Linked DNA regions of Homo sapiens. The protein of the gene in region 7 purifies or fractionates together with the protein of the main gene of each other region. This does not show direct contact. Each region holds a gene or a part of one and is shown on either strand. Other genes may lie near its edges. The genes, in order: ALDH9A1, ACO2, PLCG2, NASP, FNBP1, SIPA1L1 and ACOT7.

Region 1 (4,399 bases), about 160 Mb from region 7:
CCAAAGGTAGATAAAACCACAAAGATGGGGAGAAACCAGAACAGAAAAGCTGAAAATTCTCAAAACCAGAGTGCCTCTTCTCCTCCAAAGGATCGCAGCTCCTCACCAGCAATGGAACAAAGCTGCACGGAGAATGACTTAGACAAGTGACAGAAGTAAGCTTCAGAAGATCGGTAATAACAAACTTCTCTGAGGTAAAGGATGATGTTTGAACCCATCACAAAGAAGCTAAAAACCCTGAATTCTACCAGAGATACAAAGATGAGCTGGTACTATTCCTTCTGAAACTATTCCAATCATTAGAAAAAGAGGGAACCTCCCTAACTCATTTTATGAGGCCAGCATCAGCCTGATACCAAGACATAACAAAAAAAGAGAATTTTAGACCAATATCCCTGATGAACATCGATGCAAAAATCCTCAATAAAATACTGGCAAACAGAATCCAGTAGCACATCAAAAAGCTTATCCACCATGATCAAGTTGGCTTCATCCCTGGGATGCAAGGCTGGTTCAACATACACAAATCAATAAACGTAATCCATCATATAAACAGAACCAAAGACAAAAACCACGACTATCTCAACAGACGCAGAAAAGGCCTTCGACAAATTTCAACAGCCCTTCATGCTAAAAACTCTCAATATACTAGGTATTGATGGGACATATCTCAAAATAATAAGAGCTATTTATGACAAACCCACAGCCAATATCATACTGAATGGGCAAAAACTGGAAGCATTCCCTTTGAAAACTGGCACAAGACATGAATGCCCTCTCTCACCACTCCTATTCAACATAGTGTTGGAAGTTCTGGCCAAGGCAATCAGGCAGGAGAAAAAAATAAAGTGTATTCAATTAGGAGGAAGTCAAATTGTCCCTGTTTGCAGATGACATGATTGTATATTTAGAAAACCCCATTGTCTCAGCCCAAAATCTCCTTAAGGTGATAAGCTACTTCAGCAAAGTCTCAAGATACAAAATCAATGTGCAAAAATCACAAGCATTCCTATACACCAATAACAGACAAACACAGAGCCAAATCATGAGTGAACTCCCATTCACAATTGCTTCAAAGAGAATAAAATACCCAGGAATCCAACTTACAAGGGATGTGAAGGACCTCTTCAAGGAGAACTACAAACCACTGCTCAATGAAATAAAAGAGGACACAAACAAATGAAAGAACATTCCATGCTCATGGATAGGAAGAATCAATATCGCAAAAATGGCCATACTGCCCAAGGTAATTTATAGATTTAATGCCATCCCCATCAAGCTACCAATGACTTTCTTCACAGAATTGGAAAAAACTATTTTAAAGTTCATATGGAACCAAAAAAGAGCCTGCATTGCCAAGACAATCCTAAGCCAAAAGAACACAGCTGGAGGCATCATGCTACCTGACTTCAAACTATACTACAAGGCTACAGTAACCAAAACAGCATGGTACTGGTACCAAAACAGAGATATAGAACAATGGAACAGAACGGAGCCCTCAGAAATAATACCACACATCTACAACCATCTGATCTTTGACAAACCTGAGAAAAACAAGAAATGAGGAAAGGATTCCCTATTTAATAAATGGTGCTGGGAAAACTGGCTAGCCATATGTAGAAAGCTGAAACTGGATCCCTTCCTTACACCTTATACAAAAATTAATTCAAGATGGATTAAAGACTTAAATGTTAGACCTAAAACCATAAAAACCCTAGAAGAAAACCTAGGCAATACCATTCAGGACACAGGCATGGGCAAGGACTTCATGACTAAAACACCAAAAGCAATGGCAACAAAAGCCAAAATAGACAAATGGGATCTAAGTAAACTAAAGAGCTTCTGCACAGCAAAAGAAACTACCATCAGAGTGAACAGGCAACCTACAGAATGGGAGAAAATTTTTGTAATCTACCCATCTGACAGAGGGTTAATATCCAGAATCTACAATGAACTTAAACAAATTTACAAGAAAAAACAAACAACCCCATCAACAAGTGGGCAAAGGATATGAACAGACACTTCTCAAAAAAAGACATTTATGCAGCCAAAAGACACATGAAAAAATGCTCATCATCACTGGCCATCAGAGAAATGCAAATCAAACCCACAATGAGATACCATCTCACACCAGTTAGAATGGCAATCATTAAAAAGTCAGGAAACAACAGGTGCTGGAGATGATGTGGAGAAATAGGAACACTTTTACACTGTTGGTGGGACTGTAAACTAGTTCAACCATTGTGGAAGACAGTGTGGCGATTCCTCAAATATCTAGAACTAGAAATACCATTTGACCCAGCCATCCCATTACTGGGTATATACTCAAAGGATTATAAATCATGCTACTATAAAGACACATGCACACGTATGTTTATTGCAGCACTATTCACAAGAGCAAAGACTTGGAACCAACCCAAATGCCCATCAATGATAGACTGGATTAAGAAAATGTGGCACATATATACCATGGAATACTATGCAGCCATTAAAAAGGATGAGTTCATGTCCTTTGCAGGGACATGGATGAAGCTGGAAACCATCATTCTGAGCAAACTATCACAAGGACAGAAAACCAAACACTGCATGTTCTCATTCATAGGTGGGAATTGAACAATGAGATCACTTGGACACAGGGTGGGGAACATCACACACCGGGGCCGTAGGGGGTGGGGGGCTGGGGGAGGGATAGCATTAGGAGAAATACCTAATGTAAATGGTGAGTTGATGGGTGCAGCAAACCAACATGGCACTTGTATACCTATGTATCAAACCTGCACATTGTGTACATGTACCCTAGAACTTAAGTATAAAAAAAAAAAAAAAAGGAGGCAGGATTATCACTTGTTCCTCGCAGCTCTGGACTCCCAGGAAGAGGCAGCCTGGTCAGATTCTGGGAAACAAAAGAAACCTTTTGTTTCCGTCAAGTTTCAAACAGAGGACCTTCCGTGTGTTAGGCCAGCGTGGTAACTACTACACCACAGAAACCCTTTGCATTGCAGGCTTTTTATGTTTTGCGATGAGTATTAAATACTTGTTTTTACAATTTTTTTTAGTTGACAAATAAAAATTGTATATATTTATGATGTAAAAAAAAAGTTTAACTCTCTTTTTTTTAAAGGGAACATCTACAAATCTATGAAATCTTCCCAATTAAAGTAACGATACTTAAAACCCTATCTGAAAACAAATCTGAAAAAGAAAGGTAGACTTGAGAATCATCAAAATAAAGAATAAAAAGGAAACAAGTAAACCACATGGTTTAAAAAGAAAGAAAGGCTGGGCACAGTGGCTCACGCCTGTAATCCCAGCATTTTGTGAGGCCGATGTGGGTGGATCACTTGAGGTCAGGAGTTCAAGACCAGCCTGGCCAACATGGTGAAATCCATCTCTACGAAAAATACAAAAATTAGCCAGGCATGGTGGCACACACCTGTAGTCCCAGCTACTTGGGAAGCTGAGGCAGGAGAATTGCTTGAGCCCGGGAGGCGAAGGTTGCAGTGAGCCGAGATCACTCCACTGCACTCCAGCCTGGGCGACAGAGCAAGATTCCGTCTCAAAAAAAAAAAAAAATAAAAATAAAAAAAGGACGATGAGCTATAAAGAGTGCATTATAATTCAAAACAAAGCTTTACAAACATGAAAACCTGCCAAAGGAGATGTCCAAGAGCCAACATCCAGATGGGAAGTATTGAACAAAAACTTGTTTTATATACTAAGGTGAGCATGTGGAAATGTTTTTCCATTTTATAAAAACGTTACGGCCTAATGTTGCAACAAAGTCGAACTGCAAACATCACAAAGAAACCTCAGAGCAATGTCTGAGTTCTGGAAGGAAATAAATTGGAACATACCCTTATTATCCTGGCAGCCTCCAAAAGGATTCGGCAACGCTCCATGCCAGATTTTTGACTCCATATTTTAAAAGCAGCCTTTGCATTTTGAACAGCCAAATTTACTTCCTTTTCTCCTGAACATGTGAAAGTAGCTATCACTCGGCCTATAAAGAGCGGAAACATCAGTTTTAACTCAAATTGTTGCCACATATTTAAATAAAATATTATCTATCAATATTCTCTTAGTAGTAGTCTTTTTTTTTTTTTTTTTTTTTTTCTTGAGATGGAGTCTTGCTCTGTCACCCAGGCTGGAGTGCAGTGGCGCGATCTCGGCTCACTGCAACCTCTGCCTCCTGAGTTCAAGCGATTCCCCTGCCTCAGCCTCCTGAGTAGCTGGGACTACCAGTGCACGCCACTACGCCCAGCTAATTTTTTGTATTTTTTAGTAGAGACCGGGTTTCACCATGTTGACCAGGATGGTCTTGATCTCCTGACCTTGTGACCCACCCGCCTCAGCCTCCCGAAGTGCCGGAATTACAGGCGTGGGCTACCGTAACTTCTTG
Region 2 (4,399 bases), on a different chromosome or scaffold from region 7:
AATTAGCTGTGCACCTGCGGTCCCAGCTACTTGCAGGCCGAGGCAGGAAGATCACTTGAGCCCAGGAGTTCAAGGCTGCAATGAGCCGAGATCGCACCACTACACTCCAGCCTGAGTGACAGGGCAAGACCCTGCCTCAAAACAAAACAAAAACCCCAGAGGCTTTTTTTGAAATAACTTGCTGGAGATCCCAGGCTTAGACGACACCTGAGAGAGCCCCCTGGACTGGTGTCTGACTGTCGGAAGTGCTGAATTCTTGGTAATGTGTTTGATGGGCCCAAATGGAAGGCTGTCGAAGGGACCACTGTTCTGAAAAGGAGGTTTCAGCCAAACGAAATGATGACACGGGCTGTAGCCATCCTGCCTATAATCTGAAGGAAGCTTCCTTGAGGGACAGGGAAGGGCCCACTGCACAGCAGATGTGAGGCCAGGGTTTATCTGGAAGACATGGGAGGTCCCTGTGTGGGGTCAGTGAGACTGACCCCAGTAACAAAACGGTGGGATTCTAGTGGACTCTACTGAGTCTCAAAGGAGGAACTAGGAAATGGGACCTGCCAGCCTCCGGCATGGGAGAGCGATGCTTCAGAGAAGGGACCTCAGCCAGTGCCCTCGGACCCTTGATGAGATACACTCAAACCACACACCCCTTCACTGAAACTCCAGACCAGTGTGTGCCCTCTGAAGGCCCACTGGGTTCCCCCAGGTAAGAGAATGGCAAAGAACGTGGGTTTCCAGAGCAGTCTCTTTCCAATTAATAATTAATACATCAGCTTTTTCATTTACAAATCGGTCACTTATGAAATTGGTATCCAGGACAGGAGGCTGTGGTCGTGTCTGGGCGCATGTGACTACACGTCTGTGTTAAGTGTGAGGAAGGGGTGTGGGAGGACCCCAGACTGGTGCCAGAGTCTCGGCCTGGACTCAGCCTGGATCCATCTCTGGTTCTGTGACCCTAGACAGGTCACTGCCTCTGAGCCCTAGCCAGAGGGACACTTTACAAATACACGTAATAATGACCACATTCTAGGCCGGGCGTGGTGGCTCACACCTATAATCCCAGCACTTTGGGAGGCCGAGGTGGGTGGATCACCTGAGGTCAGGAGTTTGAAACCAGCCTGGCCAACGTGGTGAAACCCTGTCTCTAGTAAAAATACAAAAATTAGCCAGGTATGGTGGTGGGTGCCTGTAATCCCAGCTACTCGGGAGGCTGAGGCATGAGAATCGCTTGAACCCAGGAGGCGGAGGTTGCAGTGAGCCGAGATTGCAGTGAGCCGAGATTGTGTGTCACTGCACTCCAGCCTGGGGGATAGAGCAAGACTCTGTCTCAAAAAAAAAAAAAAAAAAAAGACCATATTCTTTCTCCGCTTAAACTGTTCTAGGACTCTGAGGATGGTGACCATAGCGTTCCCACAGCCCTCGCGTTCCTGGCTGCCCCTGCCCACCTCATACCACCCGCTCTTCCAAACACAGAGAACTCCAGCAGTACAGGCCCCCTCTCACTTCCACAAAAGCATCAAGTTTCTTCCTGGCTCAGGGTCTTTGCAAATGCTGTTCTTTCTAGCATGTTCTTCCTCCAGTCAATGCAACTCATATGTTCAGTCCTCAGGTTATCTGTCACATCCTCAAAGAAGCTCTCTCTTTCCCCCAGCATCTAAATTAGACCTCTTTTTTATACTGACCAAGTCCCGCACTTTCCCTTCCTAACACATACCCAGATCTGCAGTTACCTACCTCGGCCATTGTTTAGTGTCCACACCCACAAGCAGATCCCTGAAGGCAGGGCCCCTGCCTGACTTGTTCACACTGAACCTCAGTACCTAGCCCAGTGCCTGGCACATAAAGAATGTTCAATTTGTTGAACGCATGAGGGAATGAGCTCTGAATGCTATGAGTGTGCATCTCATCTCCAGAAGATTCACTCTGAGCCCATAAAGCAAGCAGAAAGCCAGCCCCAGAAGGTAGCAGCCCTGTTGTGGGCAGCTGTCCCCAGGGCTGCAGAGGACCCACGTTCCCGGCCATGTGCAGTTCCCGGCACTGTGGGAGCTCCTGTAACATTATTACCCCCACCAGTGTTGTTGCTAATGTGGAAACCGCCGGCCGGCAGGCAGGACTGTCCTTTCAGCTGAGGGGAAAGAGCCACTGTGGAGCCAGGATACCACCAGGGGGCCAGGGTGGAAGAGAGGGTCTGAGTGAGAGCGCCGCCCCGAGTGTTTCCCATGGGGCTGGGAGGCTTTGAGCCATGCTGACCCTGGGAGCTGGAGCACTTTCAATCACATGCCCACAGGCCGCAGCCCTGCCAGCATTCAGCTCCTGCCAACGCCCCTCCCCGTGAGGGGGACCCACTCCCACTGCAGGGGCTGGAGAGTGGGGAGGCCCAGAGCTGGGAGAGAGAGGCCCGCTGTTGCCAAGAGCAGGCTGACACAAAGGTCCCACAAGCCGAGCCTGGGAGAAGGAGCAGGAACTCGATTTCATAGAAGGGTGGGGGAAAAGCCTTCAGCATGGCATACAGCCACCCCCATGTAGTTAAGCAAAACTCACAGAAGAATGGCCCCCAAAGGAGGCTCCTCAGTGACAGAGCACCAGAGTGGGAGCCAGGATCAGCATTGAGCCCTAATCGTGCCCTCATGTAGTTACAGAACTCAAGTATGATGCCACTGCCGCCTCAAATTTACAAATAGTGACCCTAGCACGCCTACCTCCCGGAGAGGGTCCTTGGAGGGTCAGAGGAGAGCGGGAGTGGGTGCAAATGGGATGCTGGCAAACTATGCTAAGATGCACCCCTCACTGCTCAGGCAGACAGGGAGGCCTGCATGGCCCCTTCCAGAGCACCTGGCAGGATCCACATCATCCTCCAACAGGACAGAAAAAGGACCTGCAGTGTGGTAAGGTCAAGGATGATTTTTTCTTTCTTTAGGCTTCCTCTGTATTTTTTAACATAATGAGCAAGTGCTATTTTTAGAAAGAGAAACAAGTAAAATCAAGTTTTAAAAGCAGACCAATCCAAAGAGGTGTGAGAATTTGGAGGCAATGCCCTGGTTTGCTCCAGTGTGAGGGTGAGGCCTCTCGCCCAGTCTTGCCCACTTGCCCACCCCCAAAGCCACCTTCTGCTCACCTTGGCCCGGCGCAGGTCTTTCTCGCCCCCAACCTGGGCTTCAATCAGATGGTCACAGTGGATGGTGGATGGCACAGCCACCTTGGACAGCCCGCTGCTGATGAACTGGAGCATGGCCATCTGGGCCGTCGCATCCTGCATGGCCACACGGTCCGGCCGCAGCCGCAGGTACGACTTGCCTCGCTCAATTTCCTGGCTGGCGGGGTCATCCAGGTGTCCATACACAATCTTCTCCGAGAGTGTCAGCGGCCGGTTCAGTCTGTGGGGAGAAGAGCAGAAGGGTGGCCTGGTGCTAGCTGCACGGCCTCCTCCCGCCCTGCCTCTCCCTCTCAGTCCATGTGGCAACCTCAACAGTGGCCAGGGACAGGGAGTCTGAACTCAGGACCTCAACGTTCCACTTGGGTGGGGACTGCTGGGTCCTGTTCACTGCACCACCTCCTCACCTCCTGCAGCACCTGGCACTTGTTAGGTGCTCCACAATTACTTGATGAGTAAGTGAATGACAACATCACAAGAGGGCAGCGCTGGTTCTTTTCAAAGGATCCTGGCTTTCCCAGCATCGTAATTCCTACTAAGTCCCCGCAACATGCATATCTCATCATTCCTGCCATTTAACAACAACAACAACCAAGAAAGCCATTTAACAACAACCAAGAAACAGGCTCAGGAGAGTGACCAAGTTCACAGCTAGATTTCGCTACTTCCCTCTGTGCCCTCAGCCCCACTAAGGCACAGGGAATCAGGACCAGCATCCCCTTCACCTGTCCACCCTGTCCGCCATCTACAACCCTCCACACCTCAGGCCTGGGATGCCTGGCTACCCAACTATGACACTAAGACTTTGCCCATTAGCTCCAGACATAGACAGGAGTATCTGTCAGTTTTCAAGAACAGAGACCGGGTCACTGCCACTGGCCTCTCACAGCTCCTCCTCCTCCTAGACCCCATTTCCCCGGAGGCCCCACCCCTCCCTTCCTCATCAGAGCCAAAATGGCAGTCCAAACCTGCCCTGGGGTCCGGCCCTGTCAGGACTCAACCGTCTTCTCCCCACAAGCCTCCCAGCCATCTAGACTGAGCTCTGCGCGGGTCCACTCTCCCTGCCAGGCTCAACGTTCCGGCTGACTCCCGGCTGCACCCACACAACAGAGCAAAGGGGCTGTTGTGGCCGCCCTGCCTGCCACAACAGCCCCTTTCAGACCTCACGCTCTGCCCCCCAGAATTCTCAAAGCTTAGGCCAAGCTTGAGACTTCCTTCCTAAGGAGGAGCAGAGTTCAACCCACACCTGAC
Region 3 (4,399 bases), on a different chromosome or scaffold from region 7:
AACAACTGAGTGCCTGTCACACACTATGAATTCAGCCGAGCCTCTCCAATGCATCTTCTCATTTGCTTCTTCCCAACCATGAGCCTGTGGGGTAGACACCAATGTTATTTCCAGTCCACAGATAAGGGAATTAAAGTTCAGAGAGTGGAGGTAACTTGCCCAAGATCACACAGCAAAGCTCATCCAAGGGCACTGGAAGTCAAGCCCCAGACTGCTCATACCTAATAAAGCAATATAGGCTCCACGGAGATTTGAATCCAATTTAATAACTGCTGTATCTCTAGCGCCTAGGGCGGCGCCTACAGTGGGCATCCAAATGACAGAGGGGAGGCAATGGAGGGGGGGCAAAGGTGGGAAGGGAAGGAGAAAGAAAGGGAAAGTGGGAGGGAGAAGAGGAGGGAGAGGAGGGGGAAGGTGGAGGAAGGGCAGTGTCTCTCCAGTGGCATATGTGTGAAACCTGCCTAGTTACCAGACCATCCGGGGGACTTATTATAATAATACGCCCCAGCCAAAGTGGTGAAATATCATCATTCTTGGTCTCTCCAGGGAGAAAGAAGAAGGAAATAAAGAGGCTGAACAGATAAATAAAAGAATGAATTGAGGCCGGGCATGGTAGTTCCTGTCTGTAATCCCAGCACTTTCGGAGACCAAGGTGGGAGGATCACTTGAGGCCAGGAGTTGGAGACCAGCCTCGGCAACATAGCAAGACCCTATCTACACAAAAGTTAAAAAATCAGCCAGGCATGGTGGCACTCACCTGTAGTCTCAGCTACTTGGGAGACTGGGCAGGAGGATCACTTGAGCCCAGGAGTTCACAACTATAGTGAACCATGATCAGGCCATTGCTCTCTAGCCTGGGCAACAGAGCAAGACCCTGTCTCTAAAACAGAGAGCGAGAGAGCGCATCCGCGTAAGCGAGTGAAATGGTATTACTCAGCAGAAGGGGAGAATGACAGGGCATAGATTTCAAGCCAAAATCCTGTCTCATGCCCATCACAATGAGCTTCAGAAGAAGGTTCTAATACCCTGTAATTTCTTTTTTGTATATATTTATTTTATTTTATTTTACTTTAAGTTCCGGGATACATGTGAAGAGCATGCAGGTTTGTTACACAGGTGTATACACATGCCATGGTTAATACCCTATACTTACAAGATCCCCCCTGGGTGTTTCTGATGGGCAGCTAGGTTTGGGATGGGCAGGTTGAGAAGAGAAAGGAACAACCTGCAGTCCAGTCTCAACGTGGCCCATCTGTATTTACCATCAGTGCCAACCCTCTCACCCCTTGTGGGGGAAGGGAGGGTGGCCACCCCAGCTGCAACAGGTTTCTGGGCCACCTGGGGGTGGAGCCGGCCAATGCAAACAGTCAAGAGGGAAGATGGCCACCTCCACATGGGCAGTTCCAAAGCAGGGCTCTGGCTCTGTGCCACAAGAGACCCACTGGGCTCCAAAACCAGGAAAAGCCTTTCAGAAAGCAGTTTGATCACACTCATGATAGGATACATCAAATTAAGGATGACACCAAGCTACCAAAGTCTACCTGTGGATGGCCAAGTTCAGCAGCCACGCAGCATAGATGAGGGTTCAGGCAACAGGTACTTTTACATCCTGTGGCTGAAACAGACAGTGGGGGCAACCTCTTTTGTGGGGTGCTGCCAAACTTCCCTTTAAAGTTAAAATATGCCATACCCCCATCCTGCCTAACACAGTGAGACCCCGTCTCTACTAAAAATACAAAAAATTAGCCGGGCGTGGTGGCGGGCGCCTGTAGTCCCAGCTACTCGGGAGGCTGAGGCAGGAGAATGGCATGAATCCGGGAGGCGGAGCTTGCAGTGAGCTGACATTGTACTACTGCACTCCAGCCTGGGCAACAGAGCGAGACTCTGTCTATTAAAATATATATATGCCATATCCTTCAGCTCAGAAATAAACCTTCAGGAAGCTGTCCTTCAGATATACCCATATATACAAATGAAGAATAATGCAACGATCACCCTTTTCTACCACTGGAAGGAATATAAATGGTGCAGCCACTTTAGAAAACAGTCTGACAGTTCCTAAAATGATGAAACTGAGTTAGTGTATGACCCAGCAATTCCACTCCTAGGTATATACCCAAAACAAATAAAAACAGACATCCACACAAAAACTTGTAGAGAAACATTCTTAGCAGCACTATTTATATTAGCCAAAAGGTGGCAACAACCCAAGGGTCCGTCAACAGATGACTGAATAAACTGTGGAATACCCATACAACGTATCGTGATTCTGCCACAAAAAGGAAAATTTCTGATCCACGCAACAAAGTGGATGAACCTTGAAAAATGCTGAGTCAAAGAAGCCAGTCACAAAAGCCCACATACATAGGATCCATTTCTATGAAATGTCCAGAATAGAGAGGTTTATAGAAACAGAATTAAATTTAACGGTTGCTTACGTCTGGTAGGGGGGATGAGGGGATGGGGTGATGGTGAAAGGTATGGGGTTTCATCTTGAGGTGATATAAAGGTTCTACTTTTGATTGGAGTGGTGCTTGCACATTTATATAAATATACTAAAACCACCACACTATACATGCTGCATACAATGGGTGAATTCTATGTATACTATGTGAATTATGTCTCAATCAATCTATTATAAAAAAAAAAAAAAAGAGTGCAAGGCTGGGTGAGGTGGCTCATGCCTGTAATCCCAATGCTTTGGGAGGCCAAGGAGGGAGGATCACTTGAGCACAGGAATTGGAGACAAGCCTGGACATAGTGAGATCCCATCTCTACAAAAAAAAAAAAAAAAAATTAAATTATCCAGGCATGGCGGTGCATTCCCATGGTCCCAGCTACTTGGGAGACTGAGGCAGGAAGATCACTTGAGCCCAGGGGGCTGAGGCTGCAGTGAGCCATGATCATGCCATTGCACTCCAGCCTGGGTAAAAGAAAGAGACCTTGTCTCAAAAAAATTAATTTTGTTTTAAAAAAAAAAGAGTACAATGATAGTCACTTCGAATAATAACAAAAGCCTGGAAATAGCATGAAATGCCCTTCTCTGGAGTTAAACTGTTACATTGAGGCCTGTGCCATTACATGTCATGTGTCCAAGAAAGAATGAGATCAATGTGTGCTGATAAGAAACCACCGCCAACATCATTATTAATTAACAAAAAGAAGTCAAGGTGCAGAAGTGTACAAGAGTTCCCAATTGTTTTCTTTTTAAACCCACACATTATGCAAGCATAGACTATTTTGGAAGATAAAAGTAACTGGTAATGAGCTTGCCTCAGTAGGATGGTTTAGGGAGGAGAAATATTTGAGTTGACTCCTTAACCCCCAGGAATATATATTTCAATTAAAAACTAGTTAATTTAAAAACACAAATTAGAGCAAATATTTGCAACTGAAAATTGCTTAAGTGCCTTTACTCTATTTGTTAAAAACAGTCTTAGAAACTTTAGGATCTGAACCAGCTGCCCAATCAAACGGAGGTAGGGGAGGAGGGACACCTCTACCAAGACCAGACCTGCATTTGAAAGCTACAAAACGTTCAACAACTCACTCTCCCTGCTTGGAGACTAAAGCAAAGGCCCCTCACTGCTATGGTATGCAGTAAAACAAGGTAGCATTTGGCGACCAAGCTATGAGTTTCTGCAGGCTTGGGCTAATTCGCCCTTAAGAGGAAAGATGACTCGACCAGTTGTGGGAACCAGACGATCCCTGATGCTGTCAGACAGGGCACAGAACCACCAGGCAAGGAGAGCTGCCTGAATGCCATTTCCATGTTGGCTGACCTCAGCTTCAGTTCTTTCACCAGAGTTTTCCCAGCTGAACTTCCTCCACCTGGTGTAAACCTCATCAGAGATCCACACAAACTGGCAATGCTTTCATTTTAAGACGAATAAAAGAACACATCAAACCAACAACAATCACAGTAATGACAAGACAGGAAGGTGGACAGGTGCTCAGGCCAGGGCCCCAGAGGACGGGCCACACTGCCCCACCCAGCGAGTACTCACAGAAGCCCTCGATCTTGTCAGCGGTCTTGCTCCAGGCCACCTGCCGCGTCTCCATGATCACCTGGACGGTTCTCCGCTCGGGGGTGGACTTGCGGAAGCTGAACACAGTCATCACCGTCCCCAGCTCCAGGGCTCTCTTGATCTGGCTCTTCTCATATTCCGCAAGGGAATCTACATTGACCGTGGTGGACATTGTCGGCCGCTCCAGGGAGAAGGAAGGAATCGGGAGAAATCAGGAAGCTGAAAGGGCAGAATTAAAGAGTGAACTGATTTTAGTACTGAAAGGGGTTTAGTTAACAGGGCATGAACTTCAGGAACCAAAATCCTGTCTCATGTCAATCAGGATGAGTTTTAGGAGAAGGTTCTAGTGGCAAGGCATCGCTGGCCACTCA
Region 4 (4,399 bases), about 39 Mb from region 7:
TTCACCCTCTTTCATCTGTTCTTCTCTCTCTTGTGTCTCTTCATTAGCAGCTATCTGAACTTTGTCTTCAGGTGATTTCTCAGTAGCTCCCTGGGCTACCTTGGTATCAACCCCATCTCCAGCTGCCTCAGACTCTTCTACAGACAGCTTAGTCTCCTCCTGACTAGGAACCAGCTTTGCCCTGACCTTCTCCTCTAGTCCTGAGCCATCTTTTGTTTCTGTCAGTCTTTCTATAGAAGTCTGTGGTTCAATAGGAGTCTGATCTCCTACAACTGACGGTCCATTGACTGCACCATCCTTAGGGAGAACTGGAGCCTCCTGCCCAGGCTTTTCAGAGACTTCTGATCCAGCCTCTACAGCTGAGGCCTCTGCAGCCTCTGTTGTCACCTCTGGTGACTCTTCAGCAGGTGGTACTTCTTGACCTACCAGTTGTTCAAGAACCGCCTTTCCTGCCTCGTTTTCAGAGGTAACTACCTTCTCCTCTGGCTCGTCCCCACCCACATCCACTGGCTTGACTGTCGGGTCTAAAGACTCTGCTTCTACCTCCACTGCAGTGCCCTGCTTTTCTAGAGTCACCACAGGCTGCTCTTCTGAAACTTCTTTTGGCTTCTCCTCTATGCTCACAATTACCTCTCCCTGCTTCTCCTGACCTCCTTTTTCTCTGCACTCTTCTTGGACATCAGTTCCAGAAACTGATTTTTCTTCCTCAGCATCTGGTACTTCCTGTTCTGGCTTCCCAGAAGTGACCTCAGCTTCATTCGGTCCTTCTGGTGCTGCTCCTCCTTTTGCCTCTTCAGAGGTTTCAGTTAACCAATCTAGAGTCAAGTCAACTTTTTCCTGTGGCTCCTCTGCAGATTTACTTATATCCATATCTTCTCTTCCACCCTTCTCCATTTCACTGTCCTGTTCTTTATCAGTTTCAGGCTTTGCCAAAGACTTGTCTTCTGTTTTTTTGGCTTCTTCTTTTTCTCCCATGGCGTCATAAACCTGTTCTCTCAACTCTTCCCTTGCTTCCTCTACATGGTTAAAGAACATGAAGCATAAACATGTCTTCGAGTTTAATGATAAAGGCATAAATGGAAACTAAAAATACATTCCCTTTAAACCCTCAAAAAGCCTACCAAGTTTCAGCAGATGGCCTAAAAATTATCTGCCCCCTAGAGAAAAGGAAAGGGAGCATCCCGGCTAGCAGAGCAACTTACTGCAAAAGAAACCCAAGCTTGTTACACTAGGTATTGTTTTACTTGAGCATTCTGATTACCAGTTAGGTAAGAGATGCCAAGCTTTTCATTCTCCCCCATCTGATATGTAAAACTATAGCAGCCAAATTCAGCTTAGAAATTATATAATTTTCGCACACATAAAAAATGTACAAGGGCTCTAAAAGTACTGCTATTAAAATAACTGAACTGCACAGGCTGTTTAAAAAAATTTGCATCAGAAAAACACTTAAGGTTGTAATAGTATTTAAAACACCAATTTAATCTTGCTTTTATCTTTTTGATTTAAAAAACCCCAATCGAAATAACTGGATTTACTTGAGAAAATAAGTTATTCTCTTTCAAAAATCTGCTGTCAGCTTCAGTAAACAGCTATCCCCACTGCAATCTCCACCAGATGCAGGCATCATCACCCCAAGCATCTTAGGAGAGACCATCCAGGACAGGTAGAGCCCCGTTTCCACCACTGTATACAAGAAATATACAACGTCGCATCTCTTGAATGTCACATGCAACTCCACATACCATCTATGTTATCATTATTTTCTACCAGAGATTCATCTTCTGTTTTTTCTCCTTCTTCCTCTTCCACATGCACACCTTCCAAGGCGTTTCCCAACACACCATTCTCCATTCTAGGAGAACAAAAGAAAGCACCAAAGGTTTGATGGCTAGAACCTAGCAATTTTTTCTAAGACAGAAAATACAGTCCTATATTATAAAAGCAAGAAGTGTAAGCCAAGCGCAGGCAATACAAAACTATGTATATTCAAGGAAGCAATGATCAAAACTTTAGTAATATAAATTAAGACTGCAAGAGCACTGAAGGAAATAAGCATATTCCTCCATCCAGCCGCCTGAAAAGCATGTCTCTTGTCAAAAGAACAAGACCTATATGCATTCCATTTGTAATAGGACCATACTATTTCCCAAACTTTGTATCCACCCGATTTCTCTAAATAGCCAAAAATACTCTAGCAAGATTTTCACGGCAAATCATGAGAAAGTTCTGTATGATTACGAGATTAAAAACTTACCAGAGACCAGGCACGGTGGCTCACGCCTATAATCCCATCACTTTGGGAGGTGGAGGCAGGCAGATCACCTGAGGTCAGGAGTTCAACACCAGCCTGACCAACATGGAGAAACCCCATCTCTACTAAAAATACAAAATTAGCTGGACATGGTGGCGCATACTTGTAATCCCAGCTACTCAGGAAGCTAAGGCAGGAGAATCGCTCAAACCGGGGAGGCAGAGGTTGCGGCGAGCAGAGATCGCACCATTGCACTCCAGCCTGGGTGACAGGAGTGAAACTCCGTCTTAAAAAAAAAAAAAAAAAAACTTATCAGAACTGGGCCAGGCGCAGTGACTCACGCCTGTAATCCCAGCACTTTGGGAGGCCGAGGTGGGTGGATCACCTGAGGTCAGGAGTTCGAGACCAGCCTGGCCAACATGGTGAAACCCTGTCTCTACTAAAAATAAAAAATTAGCCGGGTGTGGTGACACATGCCTGTAGTCCCAGCTACTCAGGAGGCTGGGGCAGAAGAATCACTTGAACCCGGAAGATGAAGGATGCAGTGAGCCGAGATCGCGCCACTGCATTCCAGCCTGGGTGACAGACTGAGACTCCATCTCAAAAAAAAAAAACCTTACCAGAACTGAGATTAAATAGATGACATCATTTGCTAGTTTGTATACCCTAAACAGAACTTATTCTGATTAATAAATTCTGATAGAACATAGCCAAGAACTTTTCAATAGTAAAAGTCTTTTTTACTGGACAGTCTCACTTGCTAATTCTTTCCAGTTGTCCTCTATTCAGTCCTTGTTTTGAGCTAGCTCACAGTGCTTTTAAAGATTCTCTACACTGAACTTTGGATCATTCACTACTGGAAAGAACTTTGCTTCTACTGACTCCAAAAGTCAAAACTTAAATATAACTACTAATTGTATCAAGTGCCATTCACAACTTCCATCACTACTTCAAGCTCCTTCAAAACTCTCTAGGTAAAACCAATCTTGCTTAGCTCCTGTGAAATCTCAAAGCTAGTAAACAATCTTAACAAGGAAACTTCAGTTTTTAAATACAACATCCATACCTTGCCAACTCCAGAAGTGATTTCCCATAGAAAAAGAAGGCTTCTCCACACTCATTAGCTGTCTCTCCATACTTCTTACCTCTACAAAGAGAATAAACATCTAAAATCTGAATTACCATCTAATCTAAAACATTTAGTTCTAGTTCTTCAGTTATAAATTGATATTTCTCCAGTAACATACTCCTAGAAAACCAATACCCCTCTTGCTTTCAAGGTCAAAGTGACATTAAACAATGCATGAAAATTTTGTATGCTCTTTATCAATATATAATATATATACATCCTAAGTGACATAAATGTGCTACAATTAGTAATACATAATGTAGGGCCAAACAGCCCTAAGGTATTAATAGGTATTCCTCCTGCTAAAAGATGGATGTCAGTATGGATCAGAATAGTTAAAGGACCTTTGGCTGGGACCTAGAGGATGATTAAGGCCCATGGAAAGGCATGATGTAAAGCGCAGAATATCTGGAGTTCTTCTAACTGGATTCAAATCCTACCTTTAACCCATAACTAGCTGTGAGACCTTAGACAAATTATTCTCACAGTGCCTTAGTTTTCTCATCTGTAAAATGGGAATGTTAATAACTGTTTGTTCAAAGAGCTATTGCAAGAACTAAATGAGTTAATGTATGTAAAAGCACTGAAAACAATGTTTAGACAACAAATAGCACTGTGTATTAAGTCTTAGCTATTAATATCTAGACAGAAGGAAGAAGGACAAAAATTACGTAAGTATAATGAACAAAAGGAGAAAGTACTTCTCTATGTAAGGTAAGAAGACTGGCTTTCATGGAGTAAAATACTGGCAGAATTCATGCAAAGTCAGGCCAACTAATGGCCTAAGAGTCTATTGAGAGTAACTAGAGAATCTAAGCAGTAAATTGTGATGGAGGTCATGTTTAAGGGTAGTCTACTAGATTAGAATAAGACATCTCAAATTTTCCTCCTAAATACCCTTAATGGCAGGAAAGTGGGAATACTGACCTCTCCAGTAATCTGGGAAAAATAACCTAAGAGAAAGTATTTATGTGTGCTTAAAAACTTAGGTAACATTTTATGTTGTAAGACAACCA
Region 5 (4,399 bases), on a different chromosome or scaffold from region 7:
TGAATCCAGGTTCATCTATGTTGTTTCAGGTGTTGGGGCCATGTCTAGGTGGCAGTGTGCTGCAGACAGTGGGAAAAGTGGAATCTTGGCTGCAGAAAGTACCAGAATGGAAGCAATATGTGAGGACAGTGTTTAAAGAGGAGCAGTTGGGCCGGGCGTGGTGGCTCACGCCTGTAATCCCAGCGCTTTGGGAGGCCGAGGCGGGTGGATCACCTGAGGTCAGGAGTTCAAGACCAGCCTGACCAACATGGTGAAACCTCGTCTCTACTAAAAATACAAAATTAGCCGGGCGTGGTGGCACATGCCTGTAATCTCAGCTACTCGGGAGGCCGAGGCAGGAGAATCACTTGAACCCGGGACAAGTGGCATCACACTCCAGCCTGGGCAACAGAGCAAGACTCTGTCTCAAAACAAACAAACAACAACAACAAAAAAATTGGGAGGCTGAGGCTGGTGGATCACCTAAGGTCAGGAGTCAGACCAGCCTGACCAACATGGTGAAACCCCATCTCTACTAAAAATAGAAAGGTTAGCCGGGTGTGGTGGTGCACACCTATAGTCTCAGCTGCTCGGGAGGCTGAGACAGGAGAATCGCTTGAACCGGGGAGGTGGAGGTTGCAGTGAGTTGAGATTGCACCACAGCACTCTGGCCTGGGCAACAAGAGCAAGACTCCATCCCCCACAACCCCCCCAAAAAATAACAGACAAAAGAGAAGCAGTTGGAGCCACGAGGGTACCTTTCTCCTGAGAGAGATCCAAGTGAGACAGAAGAAGACTAGAGAAGAGAACCAAAGATTTATCCAGTGAGAAATACTTACCATTCTGGGAGGGAGGAGAAAGAGGGCCCTGGAGGACTTAGAGAGGGTCCCTAGAGAGACAGAGGTAAGAACCTGGACATTTCTGTGCAGAAGGAGATGGTTTTGAGGCAGTGGGTGAGGGGTCCGTGCATCTGAGAAGGTCCGAGTGGGGTGAATTTTGTGTGGACTTCATCTTCGACGACACTTGTTTCATTGCGAAGGCCACTGTTTGCTTCCTCCCTGCATTTGCCAAGACATCTAACATATCCTGATATTGCTTTTTCAGGTCAGAATGAAGGAACGATTTCCGTAGTTGAAGGAGAAACATTGTATGTCATAGAGGAAGACAAAGGCGATGGCTGGACCCGCATTCGGAGAAATGAAGATGAAGAGGGTTATGTCCCCACTTCATATGTCGAAGTCTGTTTGGACAAAAATGCCAAAGGTGCTAAGACTTATATTTAATACCATAAAAAAAAAAAACTTAAAAAAAATGGAGTTGTTTCTCCCCACAACCATGACTGTTACAGGCAGTTCCTCAAGAGACTGGCTGGCAAGCACCATAATGCACGTTCTCCTGTAGTCTCACGTGGACTTCAGGGTCTGGGCACCTGAATTGCCTTGTCTAGTTTGGGCTGTAATCAAGTTTCACTTGCTGATGAAATTTTATGTGGAAAGCTGCCAACCGCCAACTTACAGCTATGTCATTCAAAATCTGATAAACATTTCTTCTTTTGGCGGTATCTGTAGATTAAAAAAAAAGTTGCATTGTAGCTTCTCATCTTTCTGAATTTAAAAGCCGGCACGCATCATGCAGGTGCCAAAGACTTCCCTACTCTTGTTTATATCTAGTATCCACCATACACTGAGCTACATTAGGTGGTTACAGATTGTAACTTAATAAACTGAACTGTGTTAGTTTGTTAAATTGTATACTCATTCACTTGGGAGGAAGTCACAAGTGAAATAACATCTCCTTCTTGACTAAAGCAGTAAATAAGATTCTTATATTGGCACCAAAAGTGTGTGTTTTTACTTAAACCTGGTCAGCATCCTTGGTAGGGCATCACGAGTACCCTGTTCCATCTACATGATCCCAGACAACCAGCTGAAATCTGGAAAAGTTTGGTGAATTGACCACTTGATTTTTACATTGCATTGCTGATTTTCCAAGTGTCATCAAATTGACAGGTTTTTGTTGTTGTGTTTGTGTTTTTGTTGTTGTTGTTGTTTTGAGACAGAGTCTGGCTCTGTTGCCCAGGCTGGAGTACAGTGGCTCACTGCAACCTCCGCCTCCCCCAGGTTCAAGCGATTCTCCTGCCTCAGCCTCCCGAGTAGCTGGGATTACAGGTGTGCACCACCACGCCTGGCTAATTTTTGTATTTTTAGTAGAGACGGGTTCGCTCTGTTGGCCAGGCTGGTCTCAAACTCCTGACCTCAAGTGATCTGCCTGCTTCTGCCTCCCAAAGTGCTGGGATTATAGGCGTGAGCCACCGCACCTGGCCCAAATTGACAGTTGATCAGATGTGCTAGTGCTGTTTAGATGGAGTTACTTAAAAGGCAGAGCGTGTCCCTGCATCAGCTCCTTTTGGCTGTGATTTCCTCTCACACTTGGTTCGGTTTCTGTTGGTTTTCCAAGTAGAGCTGCACTCACGCTTGCCCAGGTGGGGCTATAAAGAGAACGTGGTGTGGCAGCAAATGCTTCTCCCCACAGACACAGATCTCAGCACATTGCTGTTCAAAGACTTTGGGGGTTTGCTTTTGTTTTTTTGTTGTTGTTGTTTTTGTTTTGTTTTGTTTCTGCTTTTAATCATTGGCAAGGTTTGGATTTACTGGAAATTATTTTAGAATTTCTGGCTCATTTTATACAATTAACTGTAGCCAGAATGAAGTAAAATGTCTCACCACATCGAAAGGAATCTAGGCCACATGAGAATTTGCATTTTTAAATTGGCATTGATGTGGGAGGGGAGATAGTGAAGTTGGTCACATGCGTAGATGGTTGCCAGGCATTTCACTGTGCCCATTTCCAGAATCCACCCCGAGATCATAGACAACCCACTACAAATGGGTCAGAATGAAGGTGTTGGGTCAGATTCTCTTTTTATTTGATTTTGAAAATTATTTCCTTGTGTCCTTCCTACTTTCAAGTAGGAAATTAGCCCCTGCCTGCCTCTACATTGTGGGTTCATTTGATCAGCTCAAGTCCATTTAAAGCTGATTTTCCAAGCAGTAGCTGCACATTCGGGCTCTAGAACCTAGTAGGGGTTCTGGATGCTAGGGGCCGTGTTTCAAGATTCTCACAGCCAGTTAACCTTTATTTAGTGACAGCCTGATTTTTTAAAAAACTTTTTTTTTTTTTTTTTTTGAGATGGAGTCTCGCTCTGTCGCCAGGATGGAGTGCGGTGGCACAATCTTGGCTCACTGCAACCTCTGCCTCCTGAGTTCAAGCGATTCTCCTGCTTCAGCCTCCCAAGTAGCTGGGACTACAGGCGTGTGCCACCATGCCCAGCTAATTTTTTGTATTTTTAGTAGAGACAGGGTTTCACCGTGTTAGCCAGAATGGTCTTGATCTCCTGACCTCATGATCTGTCCACCTCAGCCTCCCAAAGTGTTGGGATTACAGGCATGAGCCCGTGCCTGGCTTTTTTTTTTTTTTTTTTTTTTTTTGAGACAGAGTCTCACTCTGTCACCTAGACTCAAGGGCAATGATACAATCCTGGCTCACTACAACCTCTGCCTCCCGAGTTCAAGTAATTCTTGTGCCTCAGCCTCCCCAGTAGCTGGGATTACAGGTGCCTGCCACCACACCCGGCTAATCTTTGTATTTTTTTTTTTTTTTAGTAAAGACAGGTTTTCACCATGTTGGCCAGGCTTGTCTCAAACTCTTGGGCTCAAGTGATCCGCCCGCCTCAGCCTCCCAAAGTGCTGGGATTACAGGGTGAGCCACCGTGCCAGGCCCAAATTTCTTTTGGATACTTTTGCTGGCATAGTATCAATAAAGCCACCCATCCCGACCCCAGGCCTCTTTGTAGATATTGCAGCAAGAAAATCAGCTGACCCTTCAACCACAAGGATCTGTTTAAATGAGCAGTAGGAAGTTTCCAGCTTTACCCAGTAAACAAGTGAATGGGAAACCTAAGGTATTAAAATCTGACCTTTCTATCCGATGACAAACTCATTTCCAGTCTGTGAACTCCTGGACAAAGCAAACTAACCACTGAAAAACTCGAAAATAGGGCAAGACGACATTAACCTTGTGAAAGTCTGCTTTGAAAAAAGGCATTCTGTCAAGCTGTGTATTTTTTTCTTGATTATTCAAATTTATTTCGTTATTCAAATTTAATTCAGAAAATAGCTCAGTTGGTTTCAGGGGGAATGGGGTGGGAGGGGTTTGGGCACATAAATTTATGATGATAATTTTAAATGTACGATCATTAAGTTGTATGCCTCAGTACTATAACAGGTGAATCTCTGTAATATTGACTAAACAGTTAAAAGATATTTTGTAAATTTCAGGTCCATCGCATCAATGCATGAAATATTAGAAAACCAAATTCCAAAGAATCAGGAATTTCCATTTCCACCCAAAGTATACTTTA
Region 6 (4,399 bases), on a different chromosome or scaffold from region 7:
GACAAGGAATGCAGCAAGACTGGAGACTGTCATAAGCAAGAACCCCACTGCCTTTCTGAGCCACCTCACATTATTTTTTAAATCACAGTTCAGCACATTACTTAACATTTAATGATGATATGCTTGGGGAAACCAGAAAAGGCTAATAAGGTTCATTAGACCTGGTTAACTAAGGCAGGGTATGTGGGTAGGGCAGTTTCTGAATATTTACTCCTCTCCAAAACAGGTGAAATTAAAAGTTCATATTTTGATTTCCAGGGAAATGCAGTCATCCAAAAGGAAGTTCTTCAAACTATCAGACAAAGGAATTTTTCTATATTTTGACATATATACATAATCCCTAGGCCATCTAGGAGGTAAGCAGTATTAGGAAATACTATCCTGAGCAAAGTATATAAAACACACACACGCACACACACACACATATATATTTGCTGCTCTTTACTTTTTAAAAGACACAAATAGCCTATCATAACCATTAACTTTCTACCATCTGATATTCACAAATCCATGAGAGCTCAGGTGTAGGACTGGTCATCTTAGTGGCAAAATAGGACACAGAACACTGTCTTGGCTTTAGAAAGCCTAAGAATCAATTGCCAAAGCTTAAGAGAAATTCTTAGAAAATAATGGCATAAACTAAAAAGAGAGATCTTAAAAACTAGCAAAAATAGCATGTGCATGTCCAAAGGAGAAAATAAACAGTTGATTAAATTTCTTCCACCAATAAACCTCCCCAGAGACAGAGAAATTAAATTTTCAACAGTGCTGCTGGCTTGGCAGGAGCTGTGGGGGGTTGGGTGGGGCAGGGAGCTCTTAGGTTTTCCCTTCTGGAAAAGACTAGGAACCAAAATGCCAAAGCACCATGAGCAGGGGCAGCTCACCTGAAGCCAAACCCTAGCACATGCAGATACAGTTAGGAAAGCAGCTGCCAGACTGAGACAGCAAAGGTCCAAACAATTGCTGAGTTTTGGGCAGCAATTAGGAGAGAGAAGAGAATAAGAGCATCATGGAACATAGAAGAAAAGCAATCTGACAATTTGAGATGTTGAGTGTCTTTTAATGTTCAATGTGTTCAATGTTTCTCAGCTCCCAGTGGAAAATTCTTAAGATAGATATTACCAGACTTCTCTATCTGTCATGGCAACTTTATAAATCCAGTGATGTAAATCCTGGGAATGGTCCCATTTAGTCACTCTTTCCAGCTGCTGTCACCACACACTGAAAGGGAGCTTCGTCCTGAGTCAGACTCCATGGATGAAACATTCAGCATCACATGTAACCTATTGTTCTTCACAACACCCTACTCCACTACCTGCTAAGAGATGTTCTACATGGTACACAAACCCTGCACTCGAGTCTCAGGCCCACAGCTGTCTCCTCAGACCTACCTCCGCGGGGTGCAGTCATCATGCGGGGGAATGATGACAACCTTCACCGTGACAGATGTTCTCAGGAGGTCGATCATCTGCTCATGGCTCAGAGTGGCTACCGCCACCTTGCAGATCTCCACCAGGCGACTGCCCTGCCTCAGCCCTGCCTGCCAGGCATAACCGTAGGGCTCCACATCCGCCACAATGCCCTCATAGTTGACATGGAAGCCAAGCTGTCCTAGCCCATTTCTTCGCAGAGTCATCTCCACCGATTCACAGCCTTTTGAAACAAACTAGACAAGGAAATAAAAGATACTGTGGTTTAAAGCAATAGGGTATTAAGTGGTGGACATGGAACTGGAAAATCATTGCAAGCAGGGTTAGTTCTGAATACCTTATTGCCAGCTGAAGAGCAGTCTGGTTATTTCCTCTTCACTAATCTCCTATTCATTAGGCCAAAAGGAATATACTTGTTGCATCCAAAAAGCTCAACGGCTTCCCTGAAGTTACAAGGAAACCTCTACCAGAGACCTACAGGGAGCTGGCAGTAAATAGAAACCATATACTGCTACTCATTTAGCCTTTGTAAAATTCAAGGCAGCAGATACTCAAGCAATTCTTTTCAACACCACCACCAGATGACTGGACTGCAGCACCAGGGAACAGGTCACATGCAAATGGGTTTTGAACATGAACGCACACACACACACACACACACACACACACACACACACACACAGAGTAAATGTGTCTTCCCCAATTTGTTCTACTTTTCCGAAACATCCATGGAAAACACAAGCATGAGATAAACTCTGTTTGCTTCACACATCAAGGGAGTTTTCAGAGGAGCTAATAACAGAGCACAAGGTTCAGTAACTTGGCTCTAGTCTGTATTGAAAACTTTATGAAAGAGAAACTGCATGTAAGGAAGAGGAAGGAGAGACTCACCTGCAACCTTTTGACAATCTCTTTGATCTCCTCAATGTTAATAAAACTACCCACTGAAACACATTCTCCTCGTTCATAGAAGATTTTGAGGCTGGTGTCAGTTGAAGTCCACCCTATCACATCTCTACAGGAACAATTGAAGACCACGCTCTTTGTTTCCTGTTCAATGAGCACAATGAACTCATTGGAGATCCCTAAAAGGCAGTCTAGTTCCATGGCCTTGTTGTAGTCTTCAGCCCGGACTGCCCATACAATGGCCCCCATGCTGCTGAGCTCGGCTCCTGGATATGGCTTAGACTTTTCCTTCTTCTTGGAAGCCAGAGAGATGAACGGAAACTTGCCAGAAGGGTCGATAGGGGTGTTGGTGACATTCTTTTCTGCCAGATCTTTCAGGTATTCCTGGCGGGTCCGAGTTGCCATGGCCCGAAACTTCTCCGATTTATGAGCAGCATTTTCTGCATTAATCACTTTCGCCAAAAGGAAGTCCCTGAACACATTTGACTTAGGGAAAGTGACCCCTTTAGGAATGGGAGGCCCAAAGGAAGGCACATCTCTGGACCTGGTAACAGCCACACTGAGAGACAAAGATCAAAGAGAGCCACGTCAGTATTTCTCAGTCTCACAACATCAGAATAAAATATACTTTCTCAAAGACAAAGATGTACCTCAGATACAAAATAGCTGCTTATTTTTCCATGAGAAACAACACACATTTCTGCTTAATACGAGTATATTTTTTCATTCTACCGCATTTAGGATTTACACAACATAATTTTTTTTCTAGGCCAAAAACAAACCTCCCAAAATCCCAAAAGCTAACACTATTAACTTTTTTTTTACCAGACAGGAAACTGACCAAAACTCCATGAAAAAAAATAGGTTTACTGTAATATTCTGTGTAAGACATTTTAAATACCTACTAACTGTTTTCAAGGGAGGTTACTGTAACCACATCATCTTTCAGAACAAGCATACATTCTGTGAGAACACAAATGTGTTCTCCATTTTAGATATGATGGCTATAAGCAGACAGCTTACATTGAAAATATCAGAAGATGCATGCCATAAAAGAAATGAATTAAATTTCAATAAAACTTAACTAGTATTTGTTGGCCTAAGTGTGAGGCATTATGCAACCAGATTAAAAGCATAATTTTAAAATGAAAATTGGAATCTGAGTAATAGTATGAGAATCTTTATGTAATAGCAACAACGCTTTAAAATCATATTTTTAAACTGAGCTATTCCTTGGTCCTTTTGGTATTTTATTCTGATAATCTATTTCTAAGAAAAATATTTTCCTTCTCCCATTCCTTTAAGCAAGATTGATATAAGAAAGCCTGTTCCAGTCATTTCTTCTGACTATATATTCCTAAAATTGGGCCTAAGAAAAGGATCATATGAACATTTGTAATAACTTATTATTTTTAACCTCAAAAGGAAAAAAAGTAAGTTTCTCCTAAAACAACAAAGGAAGTTGTTGATATAGAAATAGAGAGGTTGAGTGTTTTATATCATTTCCCAAGATTTTAGTAAAGTTTGACATGACTGGAAATGATTCTAACACATCGAAGATCGCTCTTTCCAAATTAAAAGTGAACAAATTATGCAATTATACTTAGTATTAGGGAAACAATAAAAAAATCGGTTTCTTCTGAACTCTTGGAATAGAAATGGCATCATCAGAGAGTATGCATCTTTCAAATAAAATTGAAGAGCTCTGTTTCACTTTTTTTTCTTTAGGAAGGGTTTGCTTTAAGATATTCAGCTTTGTTTTTCAAGAAATAGTTATTTCTTGTGAAAATAAGAAAAATAAAAATCAGCAACCTCAGGAGGCAAATTATATTTCTGGTGGAATGGAAAAGCTACATGCTCAGAAGATGCCATGGGATGGCCTATCTGTTGGTTTTACAAGTGTATTTTTAAAAGACTACCTAGTTCACTTCATGACAAAGAACAGTGGCAACCAACACTCCATTTTCTAACTGGAGGAGAGAATTCAGAGACTTCCATATGGCTTAATTATACCAATATGTATTAGGAAGGCAATTTTTCTTGTCTATTGTGAACTGCCTGAC
Region 7 (4,399 bases):
CACTGACTCACATCGACTCCTCTTTTGTAAAATGGGCCAATGTCCACCTCACAGCAGAGTTGCGGGGACCAAATTTCTCCCTGCAGCCCATGTTCAACCAGGCATTAAAAACAACACAGTGAAAGAAGCCGGTCACAGGGTCTGCCTATCACCCATTTACACGAGATGTCCAGGAGAGACATATACACAGAGGCAGAAAGTGGATTGGCGGTTGCCTGGGGCTGGGGGACCAGTGGTGGCTAAGGGGTGGTGCTTCTTTTTGGTGAGATAAAAGGTTTTGAAATAGACTGTGGCGGGGGATGTCCACCTCTGTGAATAGAAGAAAACCTGCTGAATCGTATCCTGGAAGTGGGTGAACAGAACGGCATGTAATTACATCTCAGTAAAGCTGTTAAAAGAGAAAACCTCCACAGTTGAGAGCTCTCTGTGGTGGGGGAGTAGTCAGGGCTGTCAACGCATAAGACTGGCCCTGAGCTAATAACTACACAGGAATTCTTTCTTCTCTTTACTTTTGCGTATATTTGACCTTTTCTATAATTAAAAAGCTAGAAAAGCAAAAAACTAACTAGACCTAGATCTAGGAAAACCAGCCCCTCCTTTCTTCCCTAGGCACCAATGATCTCCAGGCCCCAAAGAGACGGGGACTTGGCTTTACAAGCGGTGGGCTGCGGGCAGAGCTGAGGGAGCCGTCTGGGCTGTGCACAGGCGCGATTTTCCCCACTCCCCGCCAAGAGGCGCTAAGAGCTAACTCAGGACCATGCTCCTTCTGGTCCAGTTCATAGGTGTGTGATGGGCCCCAGGCCCCACGCACGCGGCACGGCCCGAACGGCAGGGAGATCTCCGCCCAAGAGCGAGAAAACCTCCAGGGCTTCATACAGCCCGGTCCTCACCTCTGCCAGCCACACGCAGCAGTGGAGCGGAGCCCTCGAGTCCCCTAACGATCTGGCCTCCATGACCACCTGGGAGTGGAATAGGAGTAACTTCCTACAGCTCTCGGCATCTTTACCAGAGATGTGACCACAGCCCTCCAGCCGCCGAGGGCGTGGGAGGACCACCCAACTCTGGGTCTGCAGAAGGCACTGCAGACGAGAGCCCTCCCACCCCTTTGCCCCCACATGGGCTGTGCACGTGGGGCAGGGACTACAGCGATAAGGGGATATTCCCTGCGCAACCCATGCTTAGGGCGCGGCAGGCTGTGCACATCAGGGTCTTCCCAACAACCCCACCAAGCAGCACAGAAATGATTGTCCACTTTTACCAATGAGGAAGTGAAGCACAGACAGGCTGAGTAACTTGCCCAAAGTGACACAGCGGGTAAGGGGAGAGCCTCCATTTAAACCTGGGCATGGGGGCTGCCCTCCAGGTCGTCCTATGCCGAGGGACTTTTAGGGGTGGGACTCGTCCATGGGAAGTGAGGAAGGCGATGGACCTGCAGCGTGTCCACGATGAACCAGGGTCAGGGGCTTCCCTGCCTCCCCTCACCTCACCCCGGCCCTCGGCACAGCCTAGGAGCACTTGCTGAGCTTGGCCTCCCCCAGGCGGGGGCCCTGCCCTGCCCTCAGCCATATTATCCCAAACCACTACAGCTGCTCCCACCCCAGCGGCCACCAGGCCATCGAGCATTCCCAATGCCACAGGCCGAGGGCTGTGACTGCTTCTCTCGAGGTCAGTTAATACACAGCCTGAGGCGGGCACGAGCCCAGGTGCAGGTCATTCTCAGGGTCGGCTCCAGGCTGAGGGAGAATCTGGTGCCCAGCAACGGGCCCCAAGGCGGCTCTGATGTGGCCCTGCTCTTTAATATTTGCAGCAAACTCATCAGCCAGGCTCTGCCCTCAGACAAAGCAAATGCTGTCTGATGATGGATGGATGTGTGGGAGCCTGAGAGCCTGTGAGGGCCCCACTGCTCTTCCCGTCTCCCGGGATGGTAGTATCTGCTGGATGTTCCAGGCTCTGAGACAGAGTCCAGACCAGCCCAGGAGCCTCAACGTCACTGCGTGGAGTGCCCGCCCATAAGCGCTGCCCTCCCAAGGTGCGGGCGGCCTTCCTCCCTGAGTGCCCAGGGGCGCCCTTCCAGGGTGAAGGTTTATGAAGATGGCAGTCAAGGGCAGGGATGTCCCAGGTGCCTGAGGACCCAGGCTCACCACCCAGGGGGAGGTGGAACAAAGGGCCGCGGGGCGGTGTCTGTCCCATGGTAGGTTACGGGCTCACTGCTGGTGGGCAGCCAGCCTCCCCAGGTCATGGCTTTGCTAAATAGTTCTCCTACCCAAGTGACAAAGGGGCCACCCTGTCCCGCTGGGTGAGAAGCTGACAGAGCAAGACAGATGTCTCCAGCACAAGGCCCCACCCACGGCCCGGCTGCTGCCTCCTCGCAGCCATCTCCCTCCACCCAGCAAAGTAAATAAATGCATACGCTGTTGGCTGTTGCTGTTTTTAATGGAGGGTTGGGGGTGGGTGGAGGACGAAAGAACGCTCTGCGGGAAGACAGATGTCTCTCTCAAGTCCCCGAGGCTGCTGGTGGGGGAAGGACTGGAGCCTCTGGGGCACTGGCCAGTGGTGCCAGCTGCCGGGCACCCACCTGTGGCCTCAGGCAGGCTCCTCCGAGCCTCTGGGGCTCCCCAAGAATATGCCAGAGAGAAAGGATGAGGTGGCAAAGGGCAGCTCAGGGCACATGACCCCCATGTATCCCGGGCACCTGCCTGATGGAAGGGATGGGGCAGCATGGCCAGGAGCAGGACTCTGAGTCCCACGGGCCCAGCTGTGTGGCCCAGGGCCAGGTTTGTTCACCTGGAAACAGGAACTCAACAAAGTGACATGGCAAAGTGCTTCCTATGGTGCCGGTGCACGTGAGCTCCTACGTGTGTGTGCACATGTGTCTGCGGTCCCTGGTGCATGTGTGTGTGTCTGTGTGGTGGTCCTGCTGTCCTCAGAAATACCTGAGGCCAAGTGCAGCCTGGGAACTGCTCCAAGGACTGTCCTGCTGGTGTGTGGCTGCCCCAAAGGAGGGCCAGATGGCCCGGGGTCACCTTAACGCAGCGGGCCCTTTAGGATGTCACACCCACACATGGGGACGCAGGGGTGGGGAGGGTCCCAAGGTAGCAGGTTGACAGTACGCTCCCTCCCTGGTGCTCAGGGAGCACCGCCTGGCACTCAGCACCAAGCCCCTGGCTCCCCTGCAGCCTAGTGGCTGCCTGGGCCTGGGGTCTGCATCTTTTTCCTCCCTCCACTTAGTGCTTCCTGCCACTGCTGTCTTCTGGGCTCTCTTCCACTGGAGGGGAAGCCTGTGGCTTTCAGAGCCAAGTGCTGCAAACCAAATGTTTTCCACTTTGCATTTTCTGTGCTTGGAGAACACACATTTGGAACATGGTATGGAGGACGAGTGACTAAGTTCCACCCTCGGTAAAATCAATAGCTTGTCCTTTTTGTAATTAATGAATGGCGTAAAAAGGGTTTCCAGTGGTGATATAACAACTTCCTGTAAGCCTGAGGGACACAGACCTTCTTAATTAGGAAGCCACGTAGCATGCCCTCTCCCTGTTATAACAGGAGACAAGAGGGGTCTTGGGATAATCACAAAAGCAATGAAAACATCTCATTATTGAGGACACTCAGCACGGCCGGGCGAGGGGCCTTGTGCATGGAGAAGCCAGCAATGATGAGCTTAGCACCAGGACCACCAGCCTCACAAGCACCTGTGCCCCCAGGGTCTTGCTCCACCTGAGGACCTTGCCTTAGCGGAGCCTGTCCGCCATCCGCTGTGGCCTCTCCGCCATCCGCTGTGGCCTCTCCCAGCAGCTGCAGGCCTGGGTTAATTACCTCCTCCTCCACACCCACCCAGGACTGCACCAGCCTCCAGCAGAAAGCAGCCGGAAGTCTCAAATAATGAGATCATTGTGGAGAGTCATAAACACCCTCACCAGGGGCTCCCCTCACCCAGCAGCACCGGCTCAGACTCCGAAAGAACTGCCCCCAAGTGGGGCCAAGAAAGGAGGCGTAAAGGCCAACGGGAGGCTGCTGGCGGAGGCAGGGAGATCGTCACCACAAAGGGGAGAAAAGGCATTGGGACTTGGGCCTGGGTGGTGGCCTCTCAGGAGCCCCTCCTGCAGGCACGGAGTGCCGTGGTCCCGGGACGCTCGGCTCACAGCTCTTGTGCCGGAGTGTGGACATGGCGGTCCCCACCCTACAACACCAATAATGATCATAGCTGTCACCTGCTGAGTGCCCACTGTGGGCTAGGCCTGGGCCAGAAGCCGCGTGCTCATGGCACACCTCTGCTGTGCGTGTGCCCACTCTGTGCTATGCCCTGTGGAGCCCTTCCTGTCCTGCTGGAGGCCAGCACCATGCCTGGACATAGCAGGGGCACAGGAGGTGTTTGCTGGATGGATGAATGAATGAATGAATG

Evidence for each region.
Region 1: the proteins of ACOT7 (region 7) and ALDH9A1 fractionate together in Homo sapiens (co-fractionation; one large-scale study listed by BioGRID). This does not show direct contact.
Region 2: the proteins of ACOT7 (region 7) and ACO2 purify together in Homo sapiens (affinity purification with mass spectrometry, with the first as the bait; one study listed by BioGRID). This does not show direct contact.
Region 3: the proteins of ACOT7 (region 7) and PLCG2 purify together in Homo sapiens (affinity purification with mass spectrometry, with the first as the bait; one study listed by BioGRID). This does not show direct contact.
Region 4: the proteins of ACOT7 (region 7) and NASP purify together in Homo sapiens (affinity purification with mass spectrometry, with the first as the bait; one study listed by BioGRID). This does not show direct contact.
Region 5: the proteins of ACOT7 (region 7) and FNBP1 purify together in Homo sapiens (affinity purification with mass spectrometry, with the first as the bait; one study listed by BioGRID). This does not show direct contact.
Region 6: the proteins of ACOT7 (region 7) and SIPA1L1 purify together in Homo sapiens (affinity purification with mass spectrometry, with the first as the bait; one study listed by BioGRID). This does not show direct contact.

Annotation. Positions count from the first base shown.
Region 1 is NC_000001.11:165,691,398-165,695,796, forward strand, and holds part of ALDH9A1 (4-trimethylaminobutyraldehyde dehydrogenase isoform 1 precursor), read right to left. Parts: intron 4,001-4,399; coding exon 3,855-4,000; intron 1-3,854. UniProt on the Homo sapiens protein: Converts gamma-trimethylaminobutyraldehyde into gamma-butyrobetaine with high efficiency (in vitro). Can catalyze the irreversible oxidation of a broad range of aldehydes to the corresponding acids in an NAD-dependent reaction, but with low efficiency.
Region 2 is NC_000022.11:41,506,763-41,511,161, reverse strand, and holds part of ACO2 (aconitate hydratase, mitochondrial precursor), read right to left. Parts: intron 3,372-4,399; coding exon 3,113-3,371; intron 1-3,112. UniProt on the Homo sapiens protein: Catalyzes the isomerization of citrate to isocitrate via cis-aconitate.
Region 3 is NC_000016.10:81,785,791-81,790,189, reverse strand, and holds part of PLCG2 (1-phosphatidylinositol 4,5-bisphosphate phosphodiesterase gamma-2), read right to left. Parts: intron 4,248-4,399; 5' UTR 4,201-4,247; coding exon 4,008-4,200; intron 1-4,007. UniProt on the Homo sapiens protein: The production of the second messenger molecules diacylglycerol (DAG) and inositol 1,4,5-trisphosphate (IP3) is mediated by activated phosphatidylinositol-specific phospholipase C enzymes. It is a crucial enzyme in transmembrane signaling.
Region 4 is NC_000001.11:45,603,938-45,608,336, reverse strand, and holds part of NASP (nuclear autoantigenic sperm protein), read right to left. Parts: intron 3,402-4,399; coding exon 3,321-3,401; intron 1,856-3,320; coding exon 1,746-1,855; intron 1,017-1,745; coding exon 1-1,016. UniProt on the Homo sapiens protein: Component of the histone chaperone network. Binds and stabilizes histone H3-H4 not bound to chromatin to maintain a soluble reservoir and modulate degradation by chaperone-mediated autophagy.
Region 5 is NC_000009.12:129,892,681-129,897,079, reverse strand, and holds part of FNBP1 (formin-binding protein 1), read left to right. Parts: intron 1-1,083; coding exon 1,084-1,242; coding exon of another isoform or gene 1,243-1,262; exon of another isoform or gene 1,263-1,819; intron 1,820-4,399. UniProt on the Homo sapiens protein: May act as a link between RND2 signaling and regulation of the actin cytoskeleton. Required to coordinate membrane tubulation with reorganization of the actin cytoskeleton during the late stage of clathrin-mediated endocytosis.
Region 6 is NC_000014.9:71,669,615-71,674,013, reverse strand, and holds part of SIPA1L1 (signal-induced proliferation-associated 1-like protein 1), read right to left. Parts: intron 2,896-4,399; coding exon 2,322-2,895; intron 1,667-2,321; coding exon 1,392-1,666; intron 1-1,391.
Region 7 is NC_000001.11:6,267,863-6,272,261, forward strand, and holds part of ACOT7 (cytosolic acyl coenzyme A thioester hydrolase), read right to left. Parts: intron 1-4,399. UniProt on the Homo sapiens protein: Catalyzes the hydrolysis of acyl-CoAs into free fatty acids and coenzyme A (CoASH), regulating their respective intracellular levels.